Regions from separate parts of the Homo sapiens genome. Here all the other regions are linked to region 1. The links come from fine-mapping of genetic effects on gene expression. A gene starts in region 1. Each other region holds a variant in brackets. All regions are shown on one strand. Distances are between the middles of the regions. Region 1 holds the start of KPTN (kaptin, actin binding protein). Region 2 has its middle 3.2 kb from the start of C5AR1. Region 3 holds the start of ZNF541 (zinc finger protein 541). Region 4 overlaps ZNF541 (zinc finger protein 541). Region 5 holds the start of LOC124904733 (a long non-coding RNA gene).

Evidence for each region. PIP is the estimated chance that this variant, and not a neighbour inherited with it, causes the effect.
Region 2: its variant is fine-mapped to the expression of KPTN in tibial artery (GTEx, PIP 0.95).
Region 3: its variant is fine-mapped to the expression of KPTN in testis (GTEx, PIP 0.95).
Region 4: its variant is fine-mapped to the expression of KPTN in whole blood (TOPMed, PIP above 0.99). The same link has a PIP of 0.9 or more in fibroblasts, lung, sun-exposed skin and thyroid.
Region 5: its variant is fine-mapped to the expression of KPTN in whole blood (TOPMed, PIP above 0.99).

What each region holds. Positions count from the first base shown.
Region 1 is chr19:47,481,811-47,487,875 of GRCh38, reverse strand. It overlaps KPTN (kaptin, actin binding protein), which reads left to right and starts at 3,657. Exons shown (of 12, transcript NM_007059.4): 1 at 3,657-3,941; 2 at 4,292-4,374; 3 at 4,497-4,581; 4 at 4,661-4,715. The coding sequence starts at 3,716. It overlaps NAPA-AS1 (NAPA antisense RNA 1), which reads right to left and starts at 3,594. Exons shown (of 4, transcript NR_038452.1): 1 at 3,352-3,594. It overlaps NAPA (NSF attachment protein alpha), which reads left to right. Exons shown (of 11, transcript NM_003827.4): 11 at 1-239. RefSeq lists enhancers at 3,283-3,412, 3,443-3,732.
Region 2 is chr19:47,303,632-47,309,696 of GRCh38, reverse strand. It overlaps a transcript of C5AR1 not described here. Among named protein-coding and RNA genes, the nearest start is that of C5AR1, 3.2 kb to the left of the region's middle. The variant G/A (reference allele first, on the strand shown) is at 1,949.
Region 3 is chr19:47,572,989-47,579,053 of GRCh38, reverse strand. ZNF541 (zinc finger protein 541) reads left to right here and starts at 5,906. Exons shown (of 17, transcript NM_001277075.3): 1 at 5,906-5,971. RefSeq lists an enhancer at 1,100-1,179. The variant C/T (reference allele first, on the strand shown) is at 2,521.
Region 4 is chr19:47,542,603-47,548,667 of GRCh38, reverse strand. It overlaps ZNF541 (zinc finger protein 541), which reads left to right. Exons shown (of 17, transcript NM_001277075.3): 5 at 2,688-4,542. Among named protein-coding and RNA genes, the nearest start is that of ZNF541, 28 kb to the left of the region's middle. The variant C/T (reference allele first, on the strand shown) is at 2,815.
Region 5 is chr19:47,724,579-47,730,643 of GRCh38, reverse strand. It overlaps EHD2 (EH domain containing 2), which reads right to left. Exons shown (of 6, transcript NM_014601.4): 4 at 4,420-4,832. It overlaps LOC124904733 (a long non-coding RNA gene), which reads left to right and starts at 1,133. Exons shown (of 2, transcript XR_007067279.1): 1 at 1,133-1,231; 2 at 1,523-1,720. RefSeq lists an enhancer at 4,380-5,146. The variant C/T (reference allele first, on the strand shown) is at 2,892.

The DNA.
Region 1 (6,065 bases):
CATGTAGCCGCTGAGACCTGCTGTTTCTGCTGGGGGCAGGCTCCTCTTCCCCCAGCCCCGGGAGCCTCCCCCAGCTTCCTGCAGCCCCGACCTCTCAGGTTAGACCCTGGGCCCTGGAGCTTAGGGGATTCTCCCCACCCCAGCCCCACACCTGCTCCTTCCCTAATGCTTTGAGGTTTTCTTGGTTGGAAGCTGCAGCTGGCCCAAGAAAGAAAATAAAAAACAACACTTTTGCATGAGTCTCTCTTCCTCCTCACCTCTGCTACCCACTCTGCCCCTGGGCCAGTCACCAGTCCCTCTCACACTCCTGGTCCCCCAGACTCTGGGCGAGCTCTTGGGAGGTCAGGCGCATGCATCCTTGAAACACGTGTGGGCTGGGTCAGTTTCTAGGTGGGGGAGACCCAGGGACGGTGGGCCTGGGGAGGAGCTCTGGCTTGGGAGTCCCAGAGCGCCCATCTTGATCTTTCTCTGGGTTCTTGGGGTCCAGGGGCCTTGATTTCCTCAACTGGGATGCACGGTGGTGATGCCACCCCTCAGAGCCAGTGGGAGGGTCGAATGTGACGGTCCTCATGACTGCTTTGGATGAGAATGGGTGGAAGCCCACCGAATCTCCCATGTCCACATTTCTCTGGCAGGAAGGCTGAACGCCCCGGTGACAGTTGTTCCATCTGTCACAGGACGGGGGAGGAAGCGGCTTTGGTGGGCAGAGTCTGAGGCCCGAGTGGGTCTGGGGAGTGGGGGAGGAGATAGCAGGAGCCTTTGCCCAGGAAAGGTGGGCAGAAACCAGCTGCCTCCACCACACTCCACAATGTGCATGTTGGGGGCCCTGTCTGGTACACATGTGCTTTACCCTGCCCCGCGCAGGGCCCCTCGCTACAGAGGAGACAGCTGAAGGAGGCTCAGTGCCCAGGCATGATGGGAAAATGTCAGGAAGTGAGCAGGGGCAGTAATTGCACAGAGGAGGGGCTGCCTAGGAAACCAGGGTGGACTCCTGGGAGAGGGGCTCCAGCCCAGAAAGCCTAGAGAAGTGCAGGTGAGGTTCAAATTCCTTGACACCTGCCCTGCTCCTCTCTCCCCTGCAGCTTCTCCCACAGCTCCAGTCCACTGATAATGGCAGCAAAGACTTCTGAGACCTGAAATTGATTACCATGTCTGCCCCCATCATGGGTGCTGGCTGAAGGATAGTGTGAGAATCTGTTTCTGTCATCCATGACCTAAATCAGTGATGGTCCGCCCTGGCTATGCTTTAAAGTCATTAAAAGTATCCAGACTTGGGGCTGGGTGCTGTGGCTCATGCCTGTAATCGTAGCACTTTGGGAGGCCGAGGCAGGCGGATCACTTGAGGTCAAGAGTTCGAGAGCAGCCTAGCCAACATGGCAAAACCCTGTCTCTGCTAGAAATACAAAAATTAGGCATGATGGTGCAAAAATAAAAGTATCCAGACTGGGGCCGCACTCTGATAAATTGTGGTTTGACTGAGGTTTCCTACCCTTTGGGGGTTTTTGGGTTTGTTTTTTTTTTGAGACAGAGTCTCGCTCTATCGCCCAGGCTGGAGTGCAGTGGTGCGATCTTGGTTCACTGCAACCTCTGCCTCCCGGGTTCAAGCGATTCTCCTGCCTCAGTCTCCCGAGTAGCTGGGATTACAAGCGTGCGCCACCACGCCCAGCTAATTTTTGTATTTTTAGCAGAGACAGCGTTTCACCATGTTGGCCAGGCTGGTCTCAAACTCCTGACCTCAGTTGATCCGCCTGCCTCAGCTTCCAAAGTTCTGGAATTACAGGCATGAGCCACCAGGCCCGGCCTGTTTTGGTTTGTTTTGTTAAAACTTCATAGGCAGTTCAAGTGTGCAGCTAGGATTGGAAACCTCTTAACAGGATGATTCCTTCCTAACCTGTAACTTCATTTTTTCATTCATCCGCTCAACATGTGGCTTATAGGTTACTAGGGCGGGAAGACGCCTGAAGGAAACGCACTGCTGAAGTGGCACTAGACCCACGTGCCACTCCCTCAGCGAATATTCACTAAGCACCTGCTGCATGCCAGGCCCTGGGAATACAGCAGCACTGACGGCATTCCCAGACTGCCCTCCAGGAACTTCTACTCTCCACATCCAGAAATCTGGAATCATCACAAATTCCTTGCCACCTCCGTTATCCAGTCTGCCTTTGAGAACTTTCCATCATGTAAGAGCTGTCTCTTACATGCTCAGCACATAGTTTGTGATTTTTGACACATATTTTCTGAATGCCTGCTTTGTGTCAGGCCTTGTGTTCCAGGTACAGGCGATAAGGCCGTGATCAAGGGAGATCAGCCTGCTGCCTTCATGGAGCTTGCAGTCTGTGTGTGCTCGAGGTGTCCAGGACAGCTGGCCAACCCATGTCTTCTGGAAATGATACACAGATGTGCACATAGTACCCAAACCTCCATGGCCTTCTAGGGACAAAGCAGCACAGACAGGAACCCCTGAAGGCCCCAGAGTCGGAAACACCTGGTTTACATCCTGTCCCCACCACTTGCTAGCATATCAGTCAGTGGACTTACTCTTTCTGAGCCTCCATTTGATTCTCTCTAAACTGGGATAATAAACCTCTTTGTAGAGGTTTCTTTCTTGCAAAGATTAGTGAGACAGATTTGCAAAGGACGTCCGGGCACATAGTAAAAGCTCAATGAATCCTGAATAAGTGAACCGGCAGGGAGGGTAACAGTAGGCCCTTGCAGAACAGTTGTAAGGAATCAGATTATCAGAGCCAGCATGACTGTCACCAAGTAGGTGTTCGATAAAGGAGGTGGTTATTATAGCTGGATCATTTTTCCTTGGGGGCAAGAAGAATGTATTAATTATTTTAAAGGTGATACTGTTAAGATTATGAACTATAGGCCGGGCAAGGGGGCTCACGCCTATAATCCTAGCACTTTGGGAGGCCGAGGTGGGCGGATCACCTGAGGTCAGGAGGTCCAGACCAGCCTGGGCAACATGGCGAAACCCCATCTCTACTAAAAATAGAAAAACTAGCCAGGTGTGGTGGCGCCTGTAATCCCAGCTGCTGGGAGGCTGAGGCAGGAGAATCGCTTGAACCCAGGAGGCAGAGGTTGCAGTGAGCCGAGATCGCACCACTGCACTCCAGGGTGACAGAGCAAGACTCCGTCTCAAAAAAAAAAAAAAAAAAAATAGTGAACTGTGGAGTTACCTTGTTTGGTTTCCAGTACTGACCGCTCGTTACTAGCTGTGTGATCTTAGGCAAGTTACTTTACCCCTCTGTGCCTCAATTCCTTCATCTCTAAAATGGATTTAAGTACCTACCTCCACCCCCTTGCGAATTTTTAATAAAGTATTAGATGGAATGCACTTACAGTAGTTCCTGGCACATAAGGGCAATATTAAGTTTTATGATGATGATGATTCGACCTTCCACACAGCATACAGCGAGAGGCCGTGGCCACCACCTCCCATCTCTAGTCACAGACTCCTTATGGCAGCCCCTTGGTCCAGAAATGGAAAGGAGAAGAGAGCGCGGGCGCAGTGGGGCAAAGTCGCCTGGGAGGCCCGAGCAGGCGACCTGGCCGCCATCTTGGGAGAGGGCAACGCCGGCAGCTTCCGTACGTCATCAGCCCGCGCAACGGCCGGGCACCCGGCGGTTCAGGTCGCTTAGAGAGTCGTAGGTTGGGTAGTGCGGGTTGGGGCGGGGGCTGCGGAGAGGGTGCTTAACTGAGGGGCATGATGGGGGAGGCGGCCGTGGCCGCGGGGCCTTGTCCGTTGCGCGAGGACAGCTTCACGCGCTTCTCGTCGCAGAGCAATGTGTACGGGCTGGCAGGCGGCGCCGGCGGGCGCGGGGAGCTGCTGGCCGCCACCCTTAAAGGCAAGGTGCTCGGCTTCCGCTACCAAGACCTCCGACAGAAAATCCGGCCAGTGGCCAAGGAGCTGCAGTTCAACTACATTCCCGGTGGGTGGCGCTATGGTGCTGGGGGGCGGGGGCCTGGAACGTGGTGTTGAGAAGGCTTCTGAGGCTCTGTCTGAGCCGGGTCACCGTGCTGGAAGAATGGGATCAGGTGGTTTTAAGGGGGTCACTGGGATCAGCGGGCAGGCATAGTTGGGGCCCGGATGAGCCTAGGGTTTCAGGATTCTTCAGACTTACAGGTCAGGATCCCTAGTACCCAGGGAACAGAGATCAGGTGATGGTGGTCAGGACTCAGACCAGAGGGCATGATCATTGCGGTAGCCAGAGCTCACCATGTTGGGGAGATTGGAAGCATGAGTCTGCCTGACACTGAACTTAGAACTCTCCCCTCCCAGTGGATGCGGAGATTGTCTCCATCGACACTTTCAACAAGTCACCCCCCAAGCGGGGTCTGGTTGTGGGGATCACGTTCATCAAGGTACCTAGAGCCCCCTCCACCTCCCTTCGCCCTCCTCCTTACACACATGGTGAGTTCCACTGAGCCGCCCCGGATCCCTCCTGCCACCCCTGCCCTCCCCTGAACCCCGTGTCCTCCGCCAGGATTCAGGGGACAAGGGCAGCCCCTTCCTGAACATTTACTGCGACTACGAGCCCGGCTCTGAGTACAACCTTGACTCTATTGCCCGTGAGTGAGGCGTGGACGGGAGGAGGGAGAGAGTCCCCAGCAGGTCCCCCATGCTAACCTGCCTGTGCCCTGCCTACAGAGAGCTGCCTGAACCTGGAGCTCCAGTTCACTCCGTTCCAGCTGTGCCATGCGGAGTGAGTGTCCCCTGCGCATCGACGCCCACTCCACTGTAAATGTAGAAACCCTGGCTTCTCGAACCCCTTCTTTACTTACAGACCCCTGTAGTCTGTTTCCCCTTCTGGAAAATAAAGAGGTTGTACTAGATTAGGGATTGAAAACTAAAATGCCAGCCGGGCACGGTGGCTCACACCTGTAATCCCAGCACTTTGAGAGGCTGAGGCAGACGGATCACCTGAGGTCAGGAGTTTGAGACCAGCCTGGCCAACATGGCGAAACCCCGTCTCTACTAAAAATACAAAAATTAGCTGGGCATGGTGGTGTGTGCCTGTAATCCCAGCCTACTCAGGAGGCTGAGGCAGGAGAATCACTTGAACCCGGGAGGCGGAGGTTGCAGTGAGCCAAGATTGCACCACAGCACTCCAACCTGGGTGACAAGAGCGAAACTCTGTCTCAAAAATAAATAAATAAAATAAAATGAAATTAAACTAAAATGCCTTTGGGGACCAGAGAGGTCATGTGAGAATGGAAAGCACAAATGTAATATAACAGGGAGCACATGTGCACACACACATATGCAGCTGAGGTTGGAAAGCTGTAGCTAACTGGAGACCACGAACTTGTCCATAGACAATCAGATTCTACATTTGTTTTTTAAAGCATTGCACTTTTTTTTTCTTTCTTTTTTTTTTTTTTTGAGATAGATGCTCGCTCTGTTGCCAGGCTGGAGTGCAGTGGCTCGATCTCTGCAACCTCTACCTCCCTGGTTCAAGTGATTCTACTGCCTCAGCCTCCTGAGTAGCTAGGATTACAGGCTCACACCACCATGCCCGGCTAATTTTTGTATTTTTAGTATAGATAGGTTTTTGCCATGTTGGCCAGGCTAGTCTCGAACTCCTGACCTCAGGTGATCCGCCCGCCTTGGCCTCCCAAAGTGCTGGGATTACAGGCGTGAGCCACCACGCCTGGCCGGAGCATCATGCTTTTAAGGTGGCCATGGACCGGATGGCCAAGGGGCCACCACACTGCCATTCCTGAACTAGATAATCTGAGAGAGTTGATGGAGCACCTGTGAATTCTGGGAATTCTGCACATCTAGAATTCCCAGATTCTAATGTTCTAGAGTCTGACATTCCAAGATCAGAGATGCTAAGTTTTCTAGAGTCGTAGGCTCTAAGATTCCAACATTTGAATATTCTACAGTACGATAGAAGCCAGAATCTTCTGAGGTTCTGTAATGATAAAGTCCTGACATTCTCATCTTTCGAGGAGATAGAACATAGAGCATCTAGAATACCAAGGTGCTAGAACCCCAAAGTGTGTGGGTTCCATTCTAGAGTTCCAGATTCCATTCCAGAACACAGATG
Region 2 (6,065 bases), 180 kb after region 1:
GCAGAGAAGGGGGGCCGGCGCTCGGAAAACCGAGGAAGCTCCTGTGCAGGCTCGGCCCCTCTCCTGGCCTTGGTTTCCCTATTTGGGGCCATCTCTTCTCTCTCATTTTTTTTTTTTTTTTTTTGATAGAGTCTTGCTGTGTCGCCCAGGCTGCAGTGGAGTGGTGCAATCTCGGCTCTCTGTAACCTCTGCCTCCTGGGTTCAAGCACTTCTCCTGCCTCAGCCTCCCGAGTAGCTGGGATTACACGTGTGTGTCACCACCCCCGGCTAATTTTTTGTATTTTTAGTAAAGACGGGGTTTCGCCATGTTGGCCAGGCTGGACTCAAACTCCTGAGCTCAGGCAATCACCCACCTCAACCTCCCAAAGTGCTAGAATTACAAGTGTGAGCCACTGCGCCCGGCCTGGAGCCATCTATCTCTTTCCTCCTAAGACGCCAGCCTTCTGGGCAAAAGCTCAGGAATGCAGTTGGCTTAAACCCCTCCCTTGGGATTCAAGAAAGCAGAGACTGTAACCTCCACTCAGCCTCCCGGCCAGGCTGATTTGAGACCCAAAGAGGCTGAGCTAGTCTGCGGAGGTAGCCCAGCATTTAAGTATATTTTACTGTTAAATCTTCCTTCTAGGGCCAGGTGCAATGGCTCACACCTATAATCCCAGCACTTTGGGAGGCTGAGGCAAATGAATCACTTGAGGTCAGGAGTTCAAGACGAGTCTGGCCAACATGGTGAAACCCTGTCTCTACTAAAAATACAAAAATTACCCAGGTGTGGTGGCAGGTGCCTGTAATCCCAGCTACTTGGGAAGCTGAGGCAGGAGAATTGCTTAAACCTGGGAGGCAGAGGTTGCAGTGAGCCAAGATTGCGCCACTGCACTCCAGCCTGGGCAACAAAGCAAGACTCTGTCTCAAAAAAAAAAAACCATCGTCACCAGCCTGGCCAATATGGTGAAACCCCATCTCTACTAAAAATACAAAAATTAGCCAGGCGTGGTGGTGGGTGCCTGTAATCTCAGCTACTCAGAAGGCTGAGGCAGGAGAATTGCTGGAACCCAGGAGGCGGAGGTTGCAGTGAGCAGAGATTGCACCATTGCACTCCAGCCCAGGCTGACAACACCAAGACTCAATCTCAAAAAAAAAAAAAAGAAAAGAAAAAGAAAAGAAAAGAAAAAAATCATCCTTCTAGGGTTATAAAGTTGGCAATAGAAAATGGAGCTACCCTGTCCCCCAACTACACAAGCCACAACCATCTCCATCTATTATTGTTACATTGTAATATATAATGAAATAATTATACAATTCAACATAATGTAGAATCAGTGGAATCCCTGAGCTTGTTTTCCTGTAACGAGATGGTCCTATCTGGGGGTGATGGGATACAGTGACAGATCATCAGGCATTAGATTCTCATAAGGAGCTTGCAACCCAGATCCCTCACATGCGCTGTTCACAACAGGGTTCATGCTCTTTTTTTTTTTTTTTTTTTTTTTGAGATGGAGTCTCACTCTCTCACCCAGGCTAGAGTGCAGTGGCACGATCTCGGCACACTGCAACCTCCGCCTCCCAGGTTCAAGCGATTCTCCTGCCTCAGCCTCCCGAGTAGCTGGGACTACAGGTGCCTACCACTGCACCCGGCTAATTTTTGTATTTTTAGTAGAGACGTGGTTTCACCATCTTGGCCAGGCTGATCTCGAACTCCTGACCTCGTGATCCACCCGCCTCAGCCTCCCAAAATGCTGGGATTACAGGCTTGAGCCACTGCGCCCGGCCTGGGTTCACGCTCTTATGAGAATGTAATTCCGCCCCTGATCTGACAGATCAGGCGGTAATATGAGCGAAGGGGCGTGGCTATAAATACAGATGAAGCTTCACTTACTCACCTGCCACTCACCTCCTGCGATGCTGCATGGTTCCTAGCAGGCCATGGACTGGTACAGGTCTGCAGCCCAGGGCT[G/A]GGGGCTAAGATACTTCCTAGAGCCTGGGGCAAGGAAGGAGCCTAGATTACCTTCCCGAGGCTGCTGTAACCAATTAGCACAAACTGCGGGCTTAACACCAGGACCGGGCGCAGTGGCTCATGCCTGCAATCCCAGCACTTTGGGAGGCTGAGGCGGGCAGATCATTGAGGTCAAGAGTTCAAGACCAGCCTGGCCAACATGGCAAAACCCCATCTCTACTAAAAATACATAAATTACCTGGGTGTGGTGGTGCATGCCTGTAGTCCCAGCTACTCGGGAGGCTGAGGCACAAGAATTACTTGAACCCGGGAGGTGGAGGTTGCAGTGAGCCAAGATGGCACCACTGCACTCCAGCCTGGGCGACAAAGCAAGACTCCACCTCAAGGAAAAAAAAAGAAAAAAAAAGCCAGACAATTATTTTGGCATGGTTCTGCAGGCCAGAAGTCCAAAATCAAGATGTCACCACTCCCTCCAGAGGTTCCAGGGGAGAATCTGTTCCTTGCCTCTCCCACCTTCAGGTGGCTCCTGAAATTCCTTGGCTTGTGGTTGCACCACGCCCGTCCCTGCCTCTGTGGTCTCATCACCTCCTCCTCTACCGTATGTCTCAAATTTCTATCTTCCTCATATAAGGACTCTTGTGATTCCACTGAGCCCACCCAGACCCAATCCAGGATAATCGCTCCCCCATCTAAAGATCTTTAACTTCATCCTATCTGCAAAGTCCCTTTTGCCATGGAAGGTCACCTGTTCACAGGTTCAGGGGATTAAGATGTGGACATCATTGGGGATCATGATTCTATCTGCAACAGGGTCTGAGAAGCTAGAGAGTAAGTGTGTCCAGTGGTGGAGAGAAGCCTTGAATGCCGAGCTAAGGAGCCTGGACATGGCCTTTCCTTCGAAATAGATGCATGACCTGTCAACCTCTCACCACCTCGGCTCTGTTACCCTGATCCAAATCACTATCACCTTCTGCTTGGACCATTACAGCAGCCTCCTCTCTGGGATCTTCACTGCCCCCCCTCCGTAGTCTCATCTCCACCAGCAACCAGAGGGAGCCTATTAAAATCTAAGTCAGATCAAAGCACTCCTCTGCTCAGAATAGGGGGTTGCCTGATTTAGCACACACACCTACACAAACAAAAACACATTACAGACTGCCCAGTTAACTTTAAATTTCAGGGTTGGGCCTGGTGCTTCATACCTGTAATCCCAGGGCATGGGGACACCGAGGAAAGATCGCTTGAGGCCAGGAGTTTGAGAGCAGCCTGGGCAACATAGTGAGATCCCATCTCAACAAAATAAATTAAAAATTAGCTGGGCATGGTGGCACGTGCCTGTGGTCCCAGCTACCTGGGAGGCTGAGGCAGGAGGATCACTTCAGCCCAGGAGATCAAGACTGCAGTGAGTTAAGATCACAAAAATATTTTTTTTTTCACATTTTACCTGAGAATCTTGTATTTTATCTGGTAACCACAGCTCAGAGCCCTCCCTTGGAGCCTACGGCACAATGAGTGTGATTGTTATGATGATTACAGAAACACACTCAATTTTTTTTTCCCATGTCCTTCTGCGACTCTACAAAACACCACCCACAACTTTCTCCCACAGTATTTTTCTACAGCAAACTTCAATTTTTAAAAATCTGGTTTTCGGCCGGGTGCGGTCCTCATGCCTGTAATCCCAGCACTTTGGGAAGCCGAGGCAGGCAGATCACCAGTTCAAGAGATTGAGACTATCCTGGCTAACATGGTGAAACCCCGTCTCTACTAAAAATACAAAAATTAGCTGGGCGTGGTGGCGGGCACTTGTAGTCCCAGCTACTCAGGAGGCTGAGGCAGGAGAATTGCTTGAACACGGGAGGCAGAGGTTGCAGTGAGCCGAGATCGCGCCACTGCACTCCAGCCTGGGGACAGAGCAACATTCTGCCTCAAAAAAAAAAAAAAAAAAATCTGGTTTTCTTTTAATTGCAAAGGAAATGCATGCTCATTGTAAATATTTAAACAATCCAGAAATACACTCCTCCCCACTCTAAAAATAGAAAAAAGAAAAAGACACCAATGAAAAGTCCCATTCCTGTCACGCTTCTGAATTCAGCTGGGAATTCACCTAGACTTTTACAAAGGTGGAGTTTGTGTTTGGCCATGGACACGCGGGTACACGATGTTCAGCAAGTTTTAGTTCCGCTAATTGAAGCCATGTGCGCAGTCTGCGTTACTCACCCAGGATTTCCAAGGTCGATTTGTGGCGATTTGGAGCATTATAGGAATGCCGTGTTGTTCTAGCCCTGACCTCCAGGGGGCGCAGGAGCGGGGAGGTTCAGGAAGCCAGGTCACAGGAACTTGACTTTTAGGATTTTGGATGGAAGTTGCCTCCTCAGCCGTAAATCATGGGTTCTTAACATTTTTAGGCCCGGGACCCTTGATAAAGGTGTCCTTGATAAAACACCCCCTCAGAAGAAAAAGAATTTTTTTAACTTTTTATTTCGATGGAATGTCAAATGAAAAAAGTTGCAAGAATAGTAAAAGCGGCCGGGTGCGTTGGCTCCCGCCTGTAATCCCAGCACTTTGGGAAGCCGAGGAGGGAAGATCACTTGAGGTAAAGAGTTCGAGACCAGGCTGACCAACATTGTGAAACCCCGTCTTTAATAAAAATACAAAAAAGTAGCTGGGAATGGTGGCAGGCACCTGTAGTCCCAGCTACTTGGGAGGCTGAGGCAGGAGAATCACTTGAACTCAGGAGGAAGAGGTTGCAGTGAACCGAGATCATACCACTGCACTCCAGCCTGGGCGACAAAGTGAGACTCTGCCTCAAAAAAAAAAAAAAAGAAAGAAAGAAAAAGAAAGCAATTGGGGCCAGAAGCAATGGCTCATGCCTGTAATCCTAGCATTTTGGGAGGCCATGGTGGGAAGATCACTGGAGTCCAGGAGTTCCAGACCAGCCTAAGTAACATAGTGAAACCCCCATCTCTACAAAACACAAAAAATTATCCAGGTGTGGTGGAGCACACCTATAGTCCTAGCTACTTAGGAGGCAGAGGCAGGAGGATCACCTGAGCCCAGGAGGTCGAGGCTGCAGTGACCTATGATTGTGCCACTGCACTGCAACCTGGACAAAAGAGCAAGACCCTGTCTCGAAAAAAAAAAAAAAAAAAAGACAGAGGCCGGGCACGGTGGCTGACGCCTGTAATCCCAGCACTTTGGGAGGCTAAGGCGGGTGGATCACCTGAAAGTCAGGAGTTCAAGACCAGCCTGGCCAACATGGTGAAACCCCATCTCTACTAAGAATACAAAAAATTAGCCAGGTGTGGTGGTGGGCACCTGTAATCCCAGCTACTTGGGAGGCTGAGGGAGAAGAATCACTTGAACTCGGGAGGTGGAGGTTGCAGTCAGCCGAGATCGTGCCATTGCACTCCAGCCTTGAGTGACAAGGGCGAAACTTTGTCACACACACACAGAAAAAAAGAAATTGGCTCATGCAATTGTGGGGGCTGGTAAACCCTAGAAAAATAATACAGGCGTATATATCTATGTCTACTTATGTTTTTCCTGGAATCATTTGAGAGTACTTTGGAAACATCATGCTCCTTTACCATAAATTTGTTACTGTGTATCTCTTATATTGCGGTTATGACAGGATATTCTCTGACATAACCACAATATATTTATCAAAATAAGGAAATATGCCACTGATACCACACTATACTCAGCCCTCACTGAAATTTCACCAGTTGTTCCAATAACTTTTTTTTTTTTTTCTGAGACAGAGTCTCAATTTGTCGCCCAGGCTGGAGTCCAGTGGCACAATCTCGGCTCACTGCAACCTCCGCCACTCAAGTTCAAGAGATTCTCCTGCCTCAGTCTCCCAAGTAGCTTGGATTATAGGCGCCCAGCCACCACGCCCGGCTAATTTTTTTTTTTTTTTTTTGAGATGGAGTCTCACTCTGTTGCCCAGGCTGGAGTACAGTGGCGTGATCTCGGCTCACTGCAAGCTCCGCCTCCCAGGTTCACGCCATTCTCCTGCCTCAGCCTCCCGAGTAACTGGGACTACAGGCGCCCGCCACCATGCCCAGCTAATATTTTGTATTTTTTTTTTTTTAGTAGAGACAGGGTTTCACCG
Region 3 (6,065 bases), 91 kb before region 1:
GGAGGCCGAGGCCGGCAGATCACGAGGTCAGGAGATCGAGACCATCTTGACTAACACGGTGAAACCCCATCTACTAAAAATACAAAAATTAGCTGGGCGTGGTGTCGGGCGCCTGTAGTCCCAGCTACTCGGGAGGCTGAGGCAGGAGAATGGCGTGAACCCGGGAGGCGGAGCTTACAGCAAGCTGAGATTGCGCCACTGCACTCCAGCCTGGGCGACAGAGCGAGACTCTGTCTCAAAAAAAAAAAAAAACCCCAAAAAGTGGATACATTACTATTAACTAAATTCCAATCTTTGTTGAGATTTTTTCTTTTTTTTTTTTGAGACAGTCTTGCTCTGTTAACCAGATAGGAATGCAGTCCTGAGCTAAAGCAATCCTCTCGCCTTAGCCTGTGGAGTAGCTGGGACCACAGGTGTGTGCTACTATGCTTGGGTAACTTTTAAAATTTTTTCGTAGAGACAGGATCTCACCAAGTTGCCCAGGGTGGTCTTGAACTCCTGAGCTCAAGTGATCCTCCTGCCTTGGGGTCCCAAAGTGCTGGAATTACAGATGCCTGGCCTTTGTTGGAGATTTCTCTAGTTTTTTAAGTAATGTCTTTTTTTTTTTTTTTAGATGAAGTCACTGTCACTCTGTTTCCCAGGCTGGAGTGCAGTGGCACCATCTCAGCTCACTGACAGCAACTTCCACCTCCCAAATTCAAGCGATTCTCCTGCCTCAGCCTCCTAAGCCTTAGCTGGATTACAGGTGCCTACCACCATGCCCAGCTAATTTTTATATTTTTAGTAGAGATGGGGTTTCACCATGTTGACCAGGATGGTCTCAAATTCTCGACCTCAAGTTATCCACCTGCCTCGGCCTCCCACAGGGCTGGGATTACAGGCGTGAGCCACCATGCCTGGCCTATTTATTTATTTATTTATTTATCTTGTTCCAGGATTATTCAATCCAGAATCCAGGATCCAATCTGTTTCTTTCCTTTCTTTTCTGTTCTTTTTTTTGCTATTACAAACATTGCTGCTTGTTCTTCTGTTGCATCTCTTGGCGCACATGATCAAGAAGTTTTCTAGAGTTAACCCCTGGGTTTGTCAGTGTGGTTCTACCAATTTTACCTGTCACTAGTCCTGTATACTCAGTTCGTCTTGCTTCAGCAAACAGAAAAAAAAAAATGTTTTTTGATTCACCGAAGTGGTAGGTGTGCTGCGGTATCTTTGGTTTTAATTTGCATTCTCTTGTTGTTGTGGTTAGTCCTCACTTCATGTTTCCTCTTGTATGAAGTGCCTCTTCAAATCTTATATTCTTTTTTTTTATTAGGTTGTCACCTTAATTTGTAGGCCTTTAAAATAAATGCTAAATGCTTTTTTTTATTTGAGACAGAGTCTCGCTCTGTTGCCCAGCCTGGAGTGCAATGGTGCGATCTCGGCTCACTGCAGACTCAACCTCCCAGGTTCAAGCAATTCTCCTGTCTCAACTTCCTGCGTAGCTGGGATTACAGGCACGCACCAGCACACCTGGCTAAGTTTTGTATTTTTAGTGGAGATGGACGTTTCACCATGTTGGCCAGGCTGGTCTCGAACTCCTGACCTCAGGTGATCCACCTGCCTTGGCCTCCCAAAGTGCTGGGATTACAAGCATGCTTGGCTAATGCTAATTTTTTGTTTATGTGTTGCATTTATCTTCTGTGTCCATGAAGTGTTCAATGTCTATCAATGACAGAAGATGCTAATTTATTTCAGGAGCTTAAGTCCTGTTTTTTAACTAGATTCTCATCTGTCCAGTGGCTAGGATCCTTATTTCCTCCATCAAGAAGAGAGATTACATGGCTGAAACAAAGCATTTTTAAAATGTGTGCTAAATAAGCGAAAAAAAAAAAGAAAACAAGAAAAAGAAAAGAAGGCCAGGCACAGTGGCTCTCACCTGTAATCCTAGCACTTTGGGAGCTGAGGCGGGTGGATCACGAGGTCAGGAGATGGAGACCATCCTGGCTAACATGGTGGAACCCCGTCTCTACTAAAAATACAAAAAATTAGCTGGGCGTGGTGGCACGAGCCTGTAATCCCAGGTACTTAGAAGGCTGAGGCAGGAGAATCACTTGAACCCAGGAGACAGAGGTTGCATTGAGCCGAGATGGTGCCACTGCACTCCAGCCTGGGTTACAGAGCGCGACTCTGTCTCAAAAGAAAAAAAAGAAGAAAAAGAAAAAAGAAAAAAAGAAAGAAAATAAAAGAAACAAACAAAAAACCCCACAAAACAAAAAGTGTGCTAAATAAAGGAAGAACCCTCTGAAATTGTTTCCAGGAGTTTAATTCCTGCCTTAGCATGACCTGTAAGTCCCTATGCCATCTGCCCCTAGTTTCTTCACTCACGTGGTTCTGGCCACACTGGTCTCTCTTCTTCTGATTTTTTTTTTTTTTTTGAGACAGAGTCTCACTCTGTTACCAAGGATGGAGCACAATGGCGTGATCTCGGCTCACTGCAACCGCTGCCTCCCAGGTTCAAGAGATTCTCATGCCTCAGCCTCC[C/T]GAGTAGCTGGGACTACAGGTGTGCACCACCATGCCCAGATAATTTTTTGTATTTTTAGTAGAGATGGGGTTTCAACATGTTGGCCAGGCTGGTCTCGAACTCCTGGGCTCAAGTGATCAGCCTACCTGGGCCCCCCAAATTGCTGGGATTACAAGCATAAGCCACCATGCCTGGCCTCTCTGCTGTCTTTCAAAAGGGTTCCACATCTTCCTGCCTCAGTGCCTGTGCACGTGCTGTTCCCTCTCTTCTTCCCCCAGATATTTTCATAGGACCCTTCCTTACTTCCTTCAGATCTCTGCTCAATGCAATCTCACCAGAGAAGCCTTTACTGACCTGTATAAAACAATACCCTCTGACCCCATCCTCTTTCCTTTGTTTTTCTTCAAGGTATAACATACTGCATTATAAATGTATTTGCAGCCAGGCACGGTGGCTCACTCCTGTAATCCCAGCATGTTGGGAGGCCAAGGCAGGAAGACTGCTTGAGCCTAGGAGTTCAAAACCAGCCTGGCCAACATGGCAAAACCCTGTCTCTACTAAAAATACAAAAAATTAGCTGGGTGTGGTGGTGCAGGCCTGTAGTACCAGCTACTCAGGAGGCTGAGGTGGTATAATAGCTTGGGCCCAGGAAGTCAAGGATGCAGCGAGGCATGATTACAACAATGCACTTCAGCCTAGGTGACATAGTGAGACCCTGTATCAAAAAAATACAACAAAAAAAGTAAATGCATTTGCTTGTCCCCCTGTAGAGGTATGCTGTCAGTACCAGAGCCACTCGCTACAAGGTTCCATGGAGCCCTGGAAATGTGGCTGGTCTGAATTGAGATGTCCCGTGAATGTAAAATACTGTATATGTGGGGTTTTAAAGACAGCCCCAAAAGTGTAAATTATCTCTTAGTTTTTATACTGATAATGTGTTGAAATATTTGGGATTAAATATTACCAAATTAATTTCACTTGTGTTTCTTTCTCTTTTATTTTATTATTTACTTTTATTTATTTGATTTTTAGGTTTGGGTGTGTTGCCCAGGCTGGTCTTGACCTCCTGAACTCAAGCAATCCTCCTGCCTCAGCCTCTCAAAGTGTTGAGATTACAGGTGTGAACCACCACACCCGTCCCAAGCCATTTTTTTTTTTTTTTAAGAGAATGGGTCCCACTATGTTGCCCAGGCTGGTGCAGTGGCTCTACACAGACAGGGCCATAGCTCACTGCAGTCTCCAACTCTTGGGTTCAAGTGATCCTCCTGTCTCAGCCTCACAAGTAGCTGGGCTACAAGTGCCAGCCGCCACACCTGCCTTCTTTACATTTTGTTCCTTTTAAACATGGCTACTAGAAAATGTAAAATTACATAAGTGGCTGGTGCTTGAAGTTTGCATTTTATTACTACTGAACAGCACTGCTCTAAAACATAAGTTCCAGGAGGAGAGGAATGTCTGTTTGACCCAGACACTATATCTGAGCACCTAGAACAGAGACCCAATAAAAACTTGCTAAATGAAGGGATCCTAAAGCAAGATGACAGGCCCTCTTCTTTCCTCTGTTTCCTCCCCCAATAATCAATTAAAAAAAAAAAAAACTTTGAGGTATAATTTACATAAAAGTCACTCACTTAAGTGTATACTTACTGATTTTTAGAAATTTACTGAGTTGTGCAACCATCACCATAACCCTTTTTTTCCCCCATCAGAGTCTCGCTCTATCCCCCAGTCTGGGGTGCAATGGCCTGATCATATAGCTCACTGCAGCCTTGGACTCCCAGGCTCAAGCGATCCTCCTGCCTCAGCCTCCCAAGTAGCTGGGACTACAGGCGCATGCCACCATCTCCAGTTAATTTTTTTTTTTTTTTTTTTTTAGAGACAGGGTTTCACTAGGTTGCCCAGGTTGGTCTCAAACTCCTAGGCTCAAGGGATCCTCCTACCTTGGCCTCCCAAAGAGCTGGGATTACAGGCGTGAGCCACCACGCCTGGCCCATAGCTCAGTTTTAGAATATTTCCATTACCCAGATAAGATCCGCGATGCCCCTTTCCACCCCGGGCAACCACTAATCTGCTCTCATTCTCCACAGATCTTCAGCACTCCGTTTCTAAGGAATGAATTATCTGCCTCAGTTGCAGGACAGTTCAAACCCCTTGGCCAGGTCGGGCACGGTGGCTCAGGTCTGTAATCCCAGCACTTTGGGAGGCAGAAGCAGGCGGATCACCTGATCACCCGAGGTCAGGAATTTAAGACCAGCCTGGCCAACATGGTGAAACCCCGTCTCTACTGAAAATACAACAAATTAGCCGGGCGTGGTGGCACGTGCCTGTAATCCCAGCTACTCGGGAGGCTGAGACAGGAGAATCGCTTTAACCCGGGAGGCGGAGATTGCAGTGAGCCGAGATCGCACCACTGAACTCCAGCCTGGGCGGCAGAACAAGACCCTGTCTCAAAAAAAAAAAAAAAGAAAAAAAAGATGGTCCTTGGCCAGTCGGCACCAGGGCCTACCGCCCTTCCCAACACAGCTCAGCACGGAGCAGGGGCCCCAGATGGCTCAGCCTTTCCCCAAAGAAGGGAGGAATAGGCTGGGCGCGGTGGCTCTCACCTATAATCCCAATGCTTTGGGAGACTGAGGCAGGAGGATCGCTTGAGCCCAGGGGAACCAGGCTAGCCTGGGCAACATGGCGAGACCTTATCTCTAAAAAAAATGTAAAAATTAGCAAGGTGTGGCGGCGCCCGCCTGTGGTCGCTGCTACTCAAGAGACTGAGGCAGGAGGATCGCCTGAGCCCAGGAAGGGGAGGGTGCGGCAGCCGTGATCGCAGCCTGGGGAACAGGGAGAGACCCTGTCTCTGAAAAAAATTTTAAAAAAAGGGAGGAGCAGCTCGCCCCACATCTCCCCCACCCAATGACGCAGAAGAGACCCTGAGAGACTCCCGCGCTCGCGACAGGGTCCTCGGAAACAGACGATACGGCCTCCCAGCACCAGGACGCTGCTCAGAGGCCCCTCCGGGGACTGGGGGCAGCCATCCAGCGGCCGCCACCGCGTTCTAACACCGCCCACCAGGAACAATGGCTGGAGTGGAGGCTCCCGGGACTCTCGGCCTCGGGATGCGGGTCTTGGGGGACTGGCCCCTCCCCCCGCCGCTCCTCCCCGGCTCACTCTTCTCACTCTCCGCCCTCAACCGCCCCCTCCCAAAATGGCGACCAACCGCCTCCTTTCCCGCCCGCGGCAAGCCCCGCCCCTCGGAGAAGCAGCCGAGAGCGCGCGGCCAGGAGGCACGCGCGAGGCCGCTCTGGGAGGCGTGAGGCGGCCCGCGGTCACGTACGCGCGCCTGCGCCGCGCGTGAGCGAGGAGATCCGGGGGTGGGCCGGGCTGCGCGTGCGCCCCGGGCGGCGCGGGGAAGGCGGGAGGCCGCTGGGAGCCCCGCGAGGCGCCAGGCGCGAGGCCCGGCGCGCGAGCCCCCGGGGGCGGGTAAAACCCGGTTGCTGCTGCCCCTGCCCCTCCCTTTCCTCCTTATCCCCCATTACTATTATTTCCTCTTTTTTCAACCCCTCCCCCTTTTTAC
Region 4 (6,065 bases), 61 kb before region 1:
ACGCCTAACAGCTGGCTTCTGAGTCAATTGTGTCATGGGAGGAGTTGGGCTAACTTTATAGAGCTATGTCCTGAGTCTCTGGTAGGTGTCTGAGGAAAACGGATCTGTGTTCTCTGTGTTTTGGGATAGCACGAGACAGGAAAGATGAGACGCCTGCTTCTAGAACATGGCAATGGAGAATTAACCCTTGTTTTTCTTTTTTTTTCTTTTTTTTTTTTTTTTTTTGAGATGGAGTCTTGCTCTGTCACCCAGGCTGGAGTGCAGTGGCACGATCTCGGCTCACTACAACCTTCACCTCCCAGGTTCAAGCGATTCTCCTGCCTCAGCCTCCAGAGCAGCTGGGACTACAGGCGCATGCCACCCCGCCCAGCTAATTTTTGTATTTTTAGTAGAGATGGGGTTTCACCATATTGGCCAGGCTGGTCTCAAACTCCTGACCTTGTGATCCACCTGCCTCAGCCTCCCAAAGTGCTGGGATTACAAGCGTGAGCCACCGCACCCGGCCCCAGCTTTGTTTTTCTTTTCTATTTTTTTTTTTGTTTTTTTTTCTTTTTTAAAAAACTCATTCTTTTCCTTTTAACTTTTGACTTAAAAAGTGTCAGGAGCAAAATTTCCTTTTTTTTTTTTTTTGGACAGTCTTGCTCTGTCACTCAGGCTGGAGTGCAGAGGTGTGATCTCAGCTCACTGCAAGCCTCTGCCTCCTGGGTTCAAGTGATTTTCCTGCCTCCTCATCTTGAGTAGCTAGGACTACAGGCATGCACTATCATGCCTGGCTAATTTTTGTATTTTTAGTAGAGACAGGATTTCTCAAGTGATCTGCGTGACTCGGCCTCCCCAAAGTGCTGGGATTACAGGTGTGAGCCACCGCTTAATGTCTTGGAAATGATAAGCTTGTCTTGCCTGTGGGGGAAAGAAAGACACATGTTTTTCAAACCAGGAGACCTGCAAGTGGGAGATGAAAGTACTTAGCATTCTTATGGGGCTCCTCCCTTTCACAAGGGGCTTTGACTAATCCATCTTTCATCTTATCCTCTCACCCACACCTACCCCAGGAAAAGGAGCCAATTTGCTCATGTCACAAGTTGGTAATAGCTGGGGGTAGAACTTAGGTCTCCTGATTCCCTCTCTGTTGCTTCCCTCAGACAGAGGCTGAGGGTGAGCCTTTGGGGAAAGACTTTATGATTTAGTCCACATCGACTAGGACTGTCCAGAGCAGGGCTGTTGGGGGCCCAGAGGGTGATGTACTCCTCTGCTTATATTTATAATGTGTTAATGCAGAGGTAGGTGTGATGCAATACATATTTACATGCATTTCTGTTTGCAGAAACTATAGGCACATTTGGCTGTTTGGCTCTATAATGTTTCTATGGATTGGGCCTCTGTAAATTGGCTTCTTTGCTGTGGGGGGTTCCAGGTAGCATCTTCTTAGGGGTCTCCTACGGTAAGGCACAGATTCCTTTGTTAAAGGAAGGATCGTCCCCAAGTTAGCATCTCCTCCAGTCTATTCTGCAGAATTCTGGTTCTCAGGAATGCTAATAGGGGCTTTTTGAAAACAAAACCAAAAACAGTTCTCTGGGCAAATAAGTTTGAGAGACACTGAAAGTTAAACAGGTCTCTCTCTGTGTGGCTTTTACATTTGCTACTGTGTGCCGGCTACAGTGGCTCACGCCTGTAATCTCAGCACTTTGGGAGGCCAAGGCAGGCAGATCACTTGAGGGTCAGGAGTTCGAGACCAGCTTGGCCAACAAGGCAAAACCCCGTCTCTACTAAAAATACAAAAATTAGCTGGGCGTGGTGGCACGCACCTGTAGTCCCAGCTACTTGGAGGCTGAGGCACAAGAATCGCTTGAACCTGGGGGGCAGAGTTGCAGTGAGCCGAGATCGTGCCATTGCACTCCAGCCTGGGTGACAGAGCAAGACTCCGTCTCAAAAACAAAAAATTAATTAATTAAATTTGCTACTGTGCATCGTGAACCTCCAAGGAGTGAATGGTGTTTTTTCAAAACTTATTTATTAGCTGTGCCAAAGTCCTTGAGGAGCAACTCTGGAGGTCTTTGTGTTCCTTGGGAACCCACTCTGGGGAAATCTGATCTGGCCTCAGTGGATTTTTTTTTTTGTATTTTTTAAAATTTTATTTATTTGTTTGTTTGTTTATTGAGATAGAGTCTCACTCTGTCACCCAGGCTGGAGTGCAGTGGTGTGATCTCGGCTCACTGCAATGCACTTCATCTCCTGGGTACAAGTGATTCTCTTGCCTCAGCTTCCCCAGTAGCTGGGATTACTGGCATGTGCCACTACACCCAGCTAAATTTTTTGTATTTTTAGTAGAGACGGGTTTTACCATGTTGGCCAGGCTGGTCTCAAACTCCTGACCTCAAGTGATCCACTCACCTCGGCCTCCCAAAGTGCTGGGATTACAGGCATGAGCCACTGTGCCCCGCTGGTTTTTTTTTTTTTTTTTACTTTTCTGTAAGGGGTTTGCTTAAAGGTGAGGGGAGAGGAACTCCCCTGCCAGATGGCTTTGACCGAAGCAGGGTTTGCTGGGTGGTCTTTCCTCGTGGGGGCTGAGTACAATTTCTGAATTGTGGTGCAACTGTACCACAGACTTTTGGGGGCCACCAGGGTCCTACAGCAGAAAGCCCGGTCCCAGGTGCCCCGGTGACGCCCCTGCTTGTGTCTGGCTCCAGGACCGGGCACATGCTCACCCACCAGAAGACAAAGCCCTTCGTGTGCATCGAGCAGGGCTGCAGCAAGAGCTACTGCGACTACCGCTCTCTGCGCCGGCACTACGAGGTCCATCACGGCCTGTGCATC[C/T]TGAAGGAAGCCCCCCCGGAGGAAGAGGCCTGCGGGGACTCCCCCCACGCCCACGAGTCGGCCGGCCAGCCGCCCCCCAGCAGCCTGCGGTCCCTGGTGCCCCCAGAGGCCAGGTCCCCCGGCTCCCTCCTGCCCCACCGGGACCTCCTGCGCCGCATCGTGAGTAGCATCGTCCACCAGAAGACCCCTTCTCCTGGCCCAGCCCCGGCGGGGGCTTCAGACAGCGAAGGGAGGAACACTGCCTGTCCCTGCCCCGCCTCATCGGGGTCCTCGTCCTGCACCCCAGCCGGCCCCCACGCGGCCCCAGCAGCGCTGGACACCGAGCTTCCCGAGGAGCCTTGCCTCCCACAGAAAGAGCCGGCCACTGACGTGTTCACAGCCCCTAATTCCAGGGCCGCCGAGAACGGCGCCCCCGACCCGCCAGAGCCGGAGCCAGATACCGCGCTGCTCCAGGCCCGGTCCACCGCGGAGTGCTGGCCCGAAGGCGGCTCCGTGCCTGCCTGCCTGCCTCTCTTCCGAGGCCAGACGGTCCCTGCCAGTTCCCAGCCATCGAGCCACAGCTTCCAGTGGCTCCGGAACCTGCCGGGCTGTCCCAAAAGCAAAGGCAACAACGTGTTTGTTGTCCACAAGCCCTCGGCCGTGCCCTCGCGGGAGGGCTCCGAGTCTGGCCCGGGACCCAGCAGCGGAAGCCCCTCGGAGGAGTCCCCGCCCGGCCCCGGCGGTGGCCTGGAGGATGCTCTGCCCTTCCCTGCCGCGCTCCTCAGGGTCCCCGCGGAGGCCCCGAGCGACCCCAGGTCGGCCAGCGGGGAAGATGACCCCTGCGCCCCCAAGAAGGTCAAGGTCGACTGCGACTCCTTCCTGTGCCAGAACCCCGGGGAGCCCGGCCTCCAGGAGGCCCAGAAGGCAGGCGGGCTCCCTGCGGATGCCTCGCCGCTCTTCCGCCAGCTCTTCCTCAAGTCGCAGGAACCTCTTGTGAGCCACGAGCAGATGCAGGTGTTCCAGATGATCACCAAGTCCCAGCGGATCTTCTCCCATGCCCAGGTGGCAGCAGTCTCCTCCCAGCTCCCTGCGCCCGAGGGCAAACCAGCCGCCCTGAGGCCGCTGCAGGGGCCGTGGCCGCAGCAGCCCCCACCACTGGCTCCTGCTGTGGACTCTCTCCACGCCGGCCCTGGAAACCCCGAGGCAGAGGGCTCCCCAGCCCGCAGGAGAAAAACCACACCCGGGGTTCCCAGAGAGGCCTCCCCCGGCAGCACGAGACGAGACGCAAAGGGGGGACTGAAAGTGGCCGCGGTTCCAACGCCCCTTGCAGCACCGTCTCTGGACCCTTCCAGGAATCCAGACATCTCTTCTCTGGCCAAGCAGCTGCGATCCTCTAAAGGGACCTTGGACCTGGAGGACATCTTCCCCTCCACAGGCCAACGGCAGACCCAGTTAGGTGGGGAGGAGCCACCAGGAGCCTCGCTGCCAGGGAAGCAGGCCCCAGCCGAGAATGGCGCGGCTTCAAGGATCACAAAAGGTGAAAAGGGCCCAGCCTGCTCCCGGGGTGGAGGCTACCGGCTCTTGGGCAACCCCAGGGCCCCGCGATTCTCCGGCTTCCGGAAAGAGAAGGCGAAGATGGATATGTGCTGTGCGGCTTCTCCGAGCCAGGTAGCCATGGCCTCCTTCTCATCGGCCGGGCCCCCGGCAGATCCCTCCAAGTCCAAGCTGACAATATTCAGCAGAATCCAGGTACCAGCTCTCTCTCACGTGGCCTGACCAGAGTGGAGTGAGTTTCCTTTGCATTTGTTAGTTGTCCAGGCATTTTATTTCATTTCAGAGAGTCCCCAGATGCAATTTTACAGAGGAAGGAATTAAGGTTCCGAAAGATTGTGGTTTTCCCCACTAAAAAAAAAAAGACCAGAATGAGGCCAGGTGAGGTGGCTTATGCCTGTAATCCCAGCCCTTTGGGATGGGAGGCTGAAGTGGGGAGACTGCTTGAGCTCAGGAGTTCGAGATCAGCCTAGGCAACATGGCGAAACCCAGTCTCTACCAAAATTTTAAAAAAGTAGCTGGGCGTGGTGGCACACGCCTGTGGTCCCAGCTACTCGAGAGGCTGAGGTGGGGGAGAATCGCTTGAACCTGGAAGATGGAGGTTTCAGTGAGCTGAGATTGTGTCTCTGCACTCCAGCCTGGGCAACAGAGCAAGACCCTGTCTTAAAAAAAAAAAAAAAGATCAACATGAGGATATCCCAGAGTTGTTCAAAACACTGTTATCTCACAAAGCCTTTTTTGCTTTTTTTTTTCTCTTGTTTCCCTTTGGATTTGCCTTTTTAGAATCTTCAGAGGATATGAAGGTAGATGCTCTCTTTCCTTTAAAGATTCCTGCTTGAAATGGCCATGTGTTTTCTGATTGTGAGTCTTGGTTTCCACAAGCACAAGTGGGCACCTGCATCGTGCCCCACACTTAAGCACATTGATAATTATTCACTGGTTCCTCCAGATGTTGTGTTTGGAGGGCCTGGTCCAAAGAGCTCATCCAGGTCTCCTGACTCCATGTCCAACCTGGGCAACATGGCGAAACCCTGTCTCTACCAAAATTTAAAAAAAATTAGTTGGGCATGGTGGTGCACGCCTGTGGTCCCAGCTACTCAGGAGGATGAGTAGCTTCCCATCATACCACAGCTACCTCATTTTTGTTTTGTTAACATCTTTATTATTCAGGTGCCAAATAATGCACCATTTTATTTTTTATATATTTTTTAGAGATGGAGGGGGTCTCGCTATGTTGCCCAGCCTGGTCTTGAACCCCTGGGCTCAAGCAATCCTCTCATCTCGGCCTCCTAAAGTGTTGGGATTACAGGCATGAGCCACCATGCCCAGCCAAATCCACCACTTTATTTTATTTTTTAAATTTATTTTATTTATTTATTTATGATGGAGTCTCACTCTGTCGCCCAGGCTGGAATGCAGTGGTGCTATCTCAGCTCATTGCAACCTCCGCCTCCTGGGTTCAAGCAGTTCTCTGCCTCAGCCTCCGAGTAGCTGGGATTACAGGCATGCGCCACCACATCTGGCTAATTTTTGTGTGTTTAGTAGAGACGAGGTTTCACCATCTTGGCCAGGCTGGTCTTGAACTCCTGACCTCGTGATCCACCCGCCTCAGCCTCCCAAAGTGCTGAGATTGCAGGTGTGAGCCACTGTGCCTGGCCAAATTTATTTTTGAGACGGAGTCTCTCACTCTGTTGCCCAGGCTGGAGTATAGTGGTGCAATC
Region 5 (6,065 bases), 240 kb before region 1:
GGCACTGGGAGGAGGGTGAATGCCTCCTCCCAGAGAGTCCAGGAAGGCCTGGTATCTTTGGAGGAGAGCATGAGGGGAGGTTAACAGTATGGCTATTGTTGGTGACGACCAAGTGTGGCGGACTCATATGTGAGGAGCAGGGGTGGGGGTGCGACACGGGGCAAAGGAGGGGCAGTGAGCCTTGGTCACAGCGGACCCTAAATCCCATGCTCCTGTGTCCTGAACGGCACTGGGGAGCCATGGATGAACCTGCAGGAAGAGGGGGAGGGAGTGCCTAATGGTCTGAAGGACCAATCAGGGCAGGGGTGTGGCCGGGCTGGGGGCGGGGCCTGTGAGAGCGGGCCAATGGAGCCAGGGGGCAGGGCCGAAGGGCGGCTCCGTAGGGACCAAAGGAGGGTAGGCGGGAGGGCGCTGATGGCTTTTCCAGAGAGGAAGCAGGGGAAGGTGCCAGGAAGAGATAAGGTGAGAGGGCGGGCTGGGCCGGGGCTGGGTCCCTGACTCCGGGGTTTGTCTGGGTTTCCGGAGCCGCCCCCAGCCCGGCGGGGGCACCAGGTGTCTGGCCCGGACCCACCCCTCTGTCCCTGGGCCTTGTGCTCCAGCTCCCGCCAAGGGACCCGCGGGAACGAACCTGGGGGAGTCTAAGCAAGACCAGGAGGAAGACAGAGAGAGGGCGGCGGCGGAGCGGGGGAGAGATGGAGAGACAGGAGGAGGCAGAGCGAGAAAGAAAAGGAAAGGGAGTTAGAATAAAAGAAAAAGTAAAAATGGAGAAGAAAGAGACTGAGAGAGAGGTAGAAAGGAGACTGACATAGAGACAGAAAAAGAGAGAGAGAGACACTGCAGAGCCGCCTGGGCAGAGGAGCGCAAGGTGAATTCCGAAGGTTCCAGGAGTGGCAGCCTGGTCCACAGTGGGCCGCTCCCTCCGAAGGAGGATTCCTGGGGTGGGGGTGGGGGCTCTGACTCACCCACTCTCGCTGCTCCTTAAACCAACACCTCAGGCTCCTCCACCCCCTAGAACCTTCTTGGCCTCCCTGCCTGCCCAGCTTCCTGCCCCGCCTCCACCCTGGCAGCCTCCCCCTGAGAAAGTTCCATCTGACATCCAAAATCGCTCTGAAACCCGCGCTCTCCTTTCTCCTCTCCCTCCCCAAGGCCTGTCCTGATCCAGGAACCTCCAAGCCTTTTGCCTGGTCTCCAGGCTCCTAGACTCTCCTGCCTTGAATCCACCCTCCAAAAGGTAGCTTGAGTCTAATTATCTCCTTTCCCTGCTCCGAACTTTTTCATGGCTCCCCAGTGCCCTAGGGACAAAGCACAGATTCCCGGACACAGCCCACACCACCTCTGATCTCAGCCACATCCTCAGCCTCTAATTGAGTTAGCACACTGTCTACACTGGGTTCAACACTGACATTTCCCCTCAGATGCCCTCTCCTCCAAAGAAGCCCTCTCTGCCTGCCCCAGCTACCCCGCCCCAGCTCTGACCACACTGGGTCATCGGTGCCTGGGGATGGATCTGTCTCCTCTCCAGGAGCCCCAGTGAGGACTGAGCCCTGGAACTGCCTTCATTATTTAGGACTGGGAGCCCCAGCAGGACAGGACTGGAACCATCGTGGTCACTGTTGTGTCTCCTGCACCACCCAACACCAGGCCAGGCATAGAGGAGATTTTGTTCAATGCAACTGTTTGTTCAATGTCATTCATTCAATAAATATTTACAGAGCACCAATTCTGTTCCGGGCACTGGGGATAAATCAGTGAAGGAATTCAAAGAGCCCTGATTGGCTGGGTGTGGTGGCTTACGCCTGTAATCCCAGCACTTTGGGAGGCCAAGGCGGGCGGATCACCTGAGGTCGGGAGTTCGAGACCAGCCTGACCAATATGGTGAAACCCCGTCTCCACTAAAAATACAAAAAATTAGCTGGGTGTGGTGGCACACGCCTGTAACCCCAGCTACTCAGGAGGCTGAGGCAGGAGAATCGCTTGAACCCGGGAGGTGGAGGTTGCAGTGAGCTGATATCGCACCACTGCACTCCAGCCTGGGCAACAGAGGGAGACCCTGTCTCAAAAAAAAAAAAAAAGAAAGAAAGAAAAAGAAAGAGAAAGAGAAAGAAAGAGAGAAAGAGAAACAGAGAAAGAGAGAAAGGAGAGGAGAGGAGAAGAAAGGAAAGGAAAGGACAACAGGGTTAGGGTAAAGAAGGACGCATATGGGGGAAGTTATATTCATTCAAAGGAGGGCATGGACAGCCTTCCTGAGAAGGGAGCATTTGAGCAGAGTCTTGAAAGGGGTGAGGAGGGAGTGAGCCTTGTGGATGGCCAGGTGGGAGGGGGAAGAAGGCAGAAGAGGTTTCCAGGAAGAGGGAGCAGCAAGTGCACAGGACTGAGGCCACCAGCGTGAAGTGCAGGGGACGCTGGGAAGGGAATGGGAGATGAGGACAGAGGAAAGGAGTGAGAGAAGGGGACAATCTGTGGCCACAATCAAACAAGAGTCATGGGAGACGGGTGCTGTGAAGCGCCTAAGATGTAATAAATTCATCTTTTTTTTTTTTTTTATTTTGAGACAGAGTCTCGTTCTGTCGCCTAGGCTGGAGTGCAGTGGTACAATCTCAGCTCACTGCAACCTCTGCCTCCCGGGTTCAAGTGATTCTCATGCCTCAGCCTCCCAAGTAGCTGGGATTACAGGTGCCCGCCACCACACCTGGCTAATTTTTGTATTTTTAGTAGAGACGCAGTTTCACCATCTTGACCAGGCTGGTCTCGAACTCCTGACCTCAAGTGATCTGCTCCCCCCTCGGCCTCCCAAAGTGTTGGGATTACAGGCGTGAGCCACCGCACCCAGCCTTCATTGTTATTTTATGTCTGTTTACTTATTCTGTCTCCCTCCATCAAAAGATAAGCCC[C/T]GGGGCTGGTCCAATGGTAGTGGGTTATCAGAACTTTTTTTTTTTTTTTTAATAGAAATGGTGTCTCACTATGTTGCCCAAGCTGGTCTTCAATGCCTGGGCTCAAGCAATCCTCCAAAAGTGTTGGGATTACAGGCGTGAGCCACCGCACCTGGCCTTGGTTATCAGAACTTATTAGTGTCAGTAAAGTTGGCATGCAACTCCCCACCCCCACTGCTAAATTTGACTAGCTTATAAATAAATTAATTAATTAAATTTAAAAAAAGATGAGCCCCAGGAGGGCTGGAACCTTGTCTGTTCCCTCCATCCCCAGCCCCAGCACCATGTGTACAGAAAGCATTCCAGAAATACTTGTGGGCCTGGCGCGGTGGCTCACGCCTATAATCCCAGCACTTTGGGAGGCCAAGGAGAGCGGATCACCTGAGGTTGAGAGTTCAAGACCAGCCTGACCAACTAAAAATACTCTACTAAAAATACACAATTAGCCGGGCATGGTGGTGAATGCCTGTAATCCCAGCTACTCGGGAGGCTGAGGCAGGAGAATCGCTTGAATTCAGGAGGCGGAGGTTGTGGTGAGCCGAGATCACGCCATTGCACTCCAGCCTGGGCAATAAGAGCAAAACTCCGTCTCAAAAAAAGAAAAGAAGAAGAAAAAGAAATATTTGTGGAATAAACCAATGAACTTGGAAACCTTTGAACCACAATCTTATAAATTATCAAAAAATAAAGAGGGTAGAATAATGAGTATTTGTCTGTCTATATTTTATAGGAAGTTCAAAAATTCAACATACTCATGCCTGCAATCCCAGCACTTTGGGAGGCCAAAAGGGGAGGATCACTTGAGGGCAGGAGTTCAAGACCAGCCTGGGCAACACAGTAAGACCTCGACTCTACAAAAAATAAAAAATTAGCTGGGCGTGGTGACACGTGCCTGTGGTCTCAGCTACTTGGGGCAGGCTAAGGAGGAAGGATCACTTGAGCCCAGGAGTTCAAGGCTGTGGTGAGCTGTGATTGCATCATTGCATTCCAGCCAGGGCAAGAGAGCGAGACTCCATCTCTTAAAAAAGAAGGAAGAAGAGGGAACGAAAGAGGATGTAAGGAAGGAGGAAGGGAGGAGGGAGGAAGGGAGAGAGGAACAGAGGAAGGAAGGAAGGAAGGAGGAAGGGGAGGAAGAAAGAGAAGAAGGAGGAGGAGGAGGGAGAAGAAGAGGAGGAGGAGGAAAGAGAGAAGAAAGAAGAAAAAGAGGAAGAAGAAGAAGAGAAGGAGGAGGAGGAGGAAGAGGAAGAAGAAATAGAAATACCAGGACAGAGAAGCCAGGGTGACACGGAGTTGACACAGAAATCCAAAGGCAGAGGAATGAGTCTCTCCATACAGTTCTTCCTCCCGGCTTCACTCTGTGCCAGAATGACCCAACTTCAAGAGAACTAACTAACCTGGGCCCTGATAAGTCAGGGACTCACAGCACTGGTAGGAGAGGACCGAGGAAACCTCCTCCAAGAATGCGCGCCCAGCCCTCAGGACTACTCACTCGCACCAGCCGGGCCCTCTTCACCAGGTCGTTGAGCTTGCGCAAGGCTGCGTGCCGGGGCAGGCCCTGGATGTCGCGGAAGAGGTCCTGCTCCTCCAGCTCGAAGAGGCGCCGGTTGTCGGGCACGAGGAGGGGCTGGGACCAGAAGGAGCCGATGTAGACGCGCAGCACCTCGGGCGTGCCCACCACCTTGCCCAGCGCCCACATGAGCGCGCCGTAGACGCGCATCAGCTGCTGCGTCTCCACCATGTCGGCCTTGTTGAGCACCACGCGGATCTTGTCCTCATGGCCCCGCAACGCGCCGATGGCCTCTGAGAACTCGTCCGAGATCTCCAGCTTGTGCGCATCAAAGAGCAGGATGATGAGGTCCACGCGCTCCGCGAACCAGCGCAGCACGGCCGGGAAGTCGTAGCCTGGAGTGGGAGTGGAGAGACAGGGGCGCAAGGGGCAGAAATCAGACCCCCACCCTCCAGCCATTCTCAGTAGTATCCCATTCTCTTGCATATTGGACTGTAAAGATGTTCACGTTGTTGGCTGTCCAAATCCTGTCTGGGCAAAATAGCCAAGGCCCTCAGTGGGCACTACTGCTCTGGCTCTCCAGTGCCCAGAATTTCCCCCCTCGCTCTGGCCCCAGCCCCTCAAGCCATCTGGCTACAGGGGGCAATCATCCCCCTTTTCCTTTGCTCGAGCACAATGGCGGGATCACGCCTCCCTGCAACCTCTGCTTCCCGGAGCTCAGGTGATCCTCCCACCTCAGCCTCCCTAGTAGCTGGGACTGCAGGCGCGCATCACCACACCTGGCTAATTTTTTTTTTTTTTTTTTTTTTTGAGTAGAGATGGGATCTCACTATGTTACCCGGGCTGCCGGGCTAGTCTCAAACTCCTGAGCTCAACTGATCCTCCTGCCTCAGCCTCCAAAATGTTGGGATTACAGGCGTGGGCCACCGCGCCCAGCCTCACGGCCTCCATTTTTTCATTTGCTCATTCATTAAGCAGTTATTACAGGTGTGCGTCGGTATGTACATATAGGTTGTTAAAAATACTGACATGTTTGCTAAGAGATCCCCCTGTGCTTCTATGGAACCCCCAAGCCTGCCACATGCCTCTATCACCCCAGCTCCTCCCCAGGACCTGTTGTATCTCCCCACGATCCAGCAACTAGAGTTCATGCTGGATAGCTGTGCTCTTGCCATAGCAGATGATAATTTTTTTTTTTTTTTTTTTTTTTTTTTTTTTTTTTTTTGAGACAGAGTCTCACTCTGTCGCCCAGGCTGGAGTGCAGTGGCATGAATGTGGCTCACTGCAACCTCCACCTCCACCTCCCAGGTTCAAGCAATTCTCCTGCCTCAGCCTCCCGAGTAGCTGGGATTACAGGCATGCACCACCACCCTGGCTAATTTCTGTATTTTTAGTAGAGACGGGGTTTCACCATGTTGGCCAGGCTGAGAAGTTAAATATTTTGCATTTATTTAGCAATACTTACTGAGAGTCTCATGTGTGCCAAGCCCTGTCCTGGGAGCCTGGGATACCGCAGAGAACACACAGACAAGATTCTTGCTCTTATGAAGCACCCATCCCAGCCATGGGTTCCCATGCTCATTCATTCATTCCTTTCACCATTCATTTCCTCATTCACTCCTTCATCC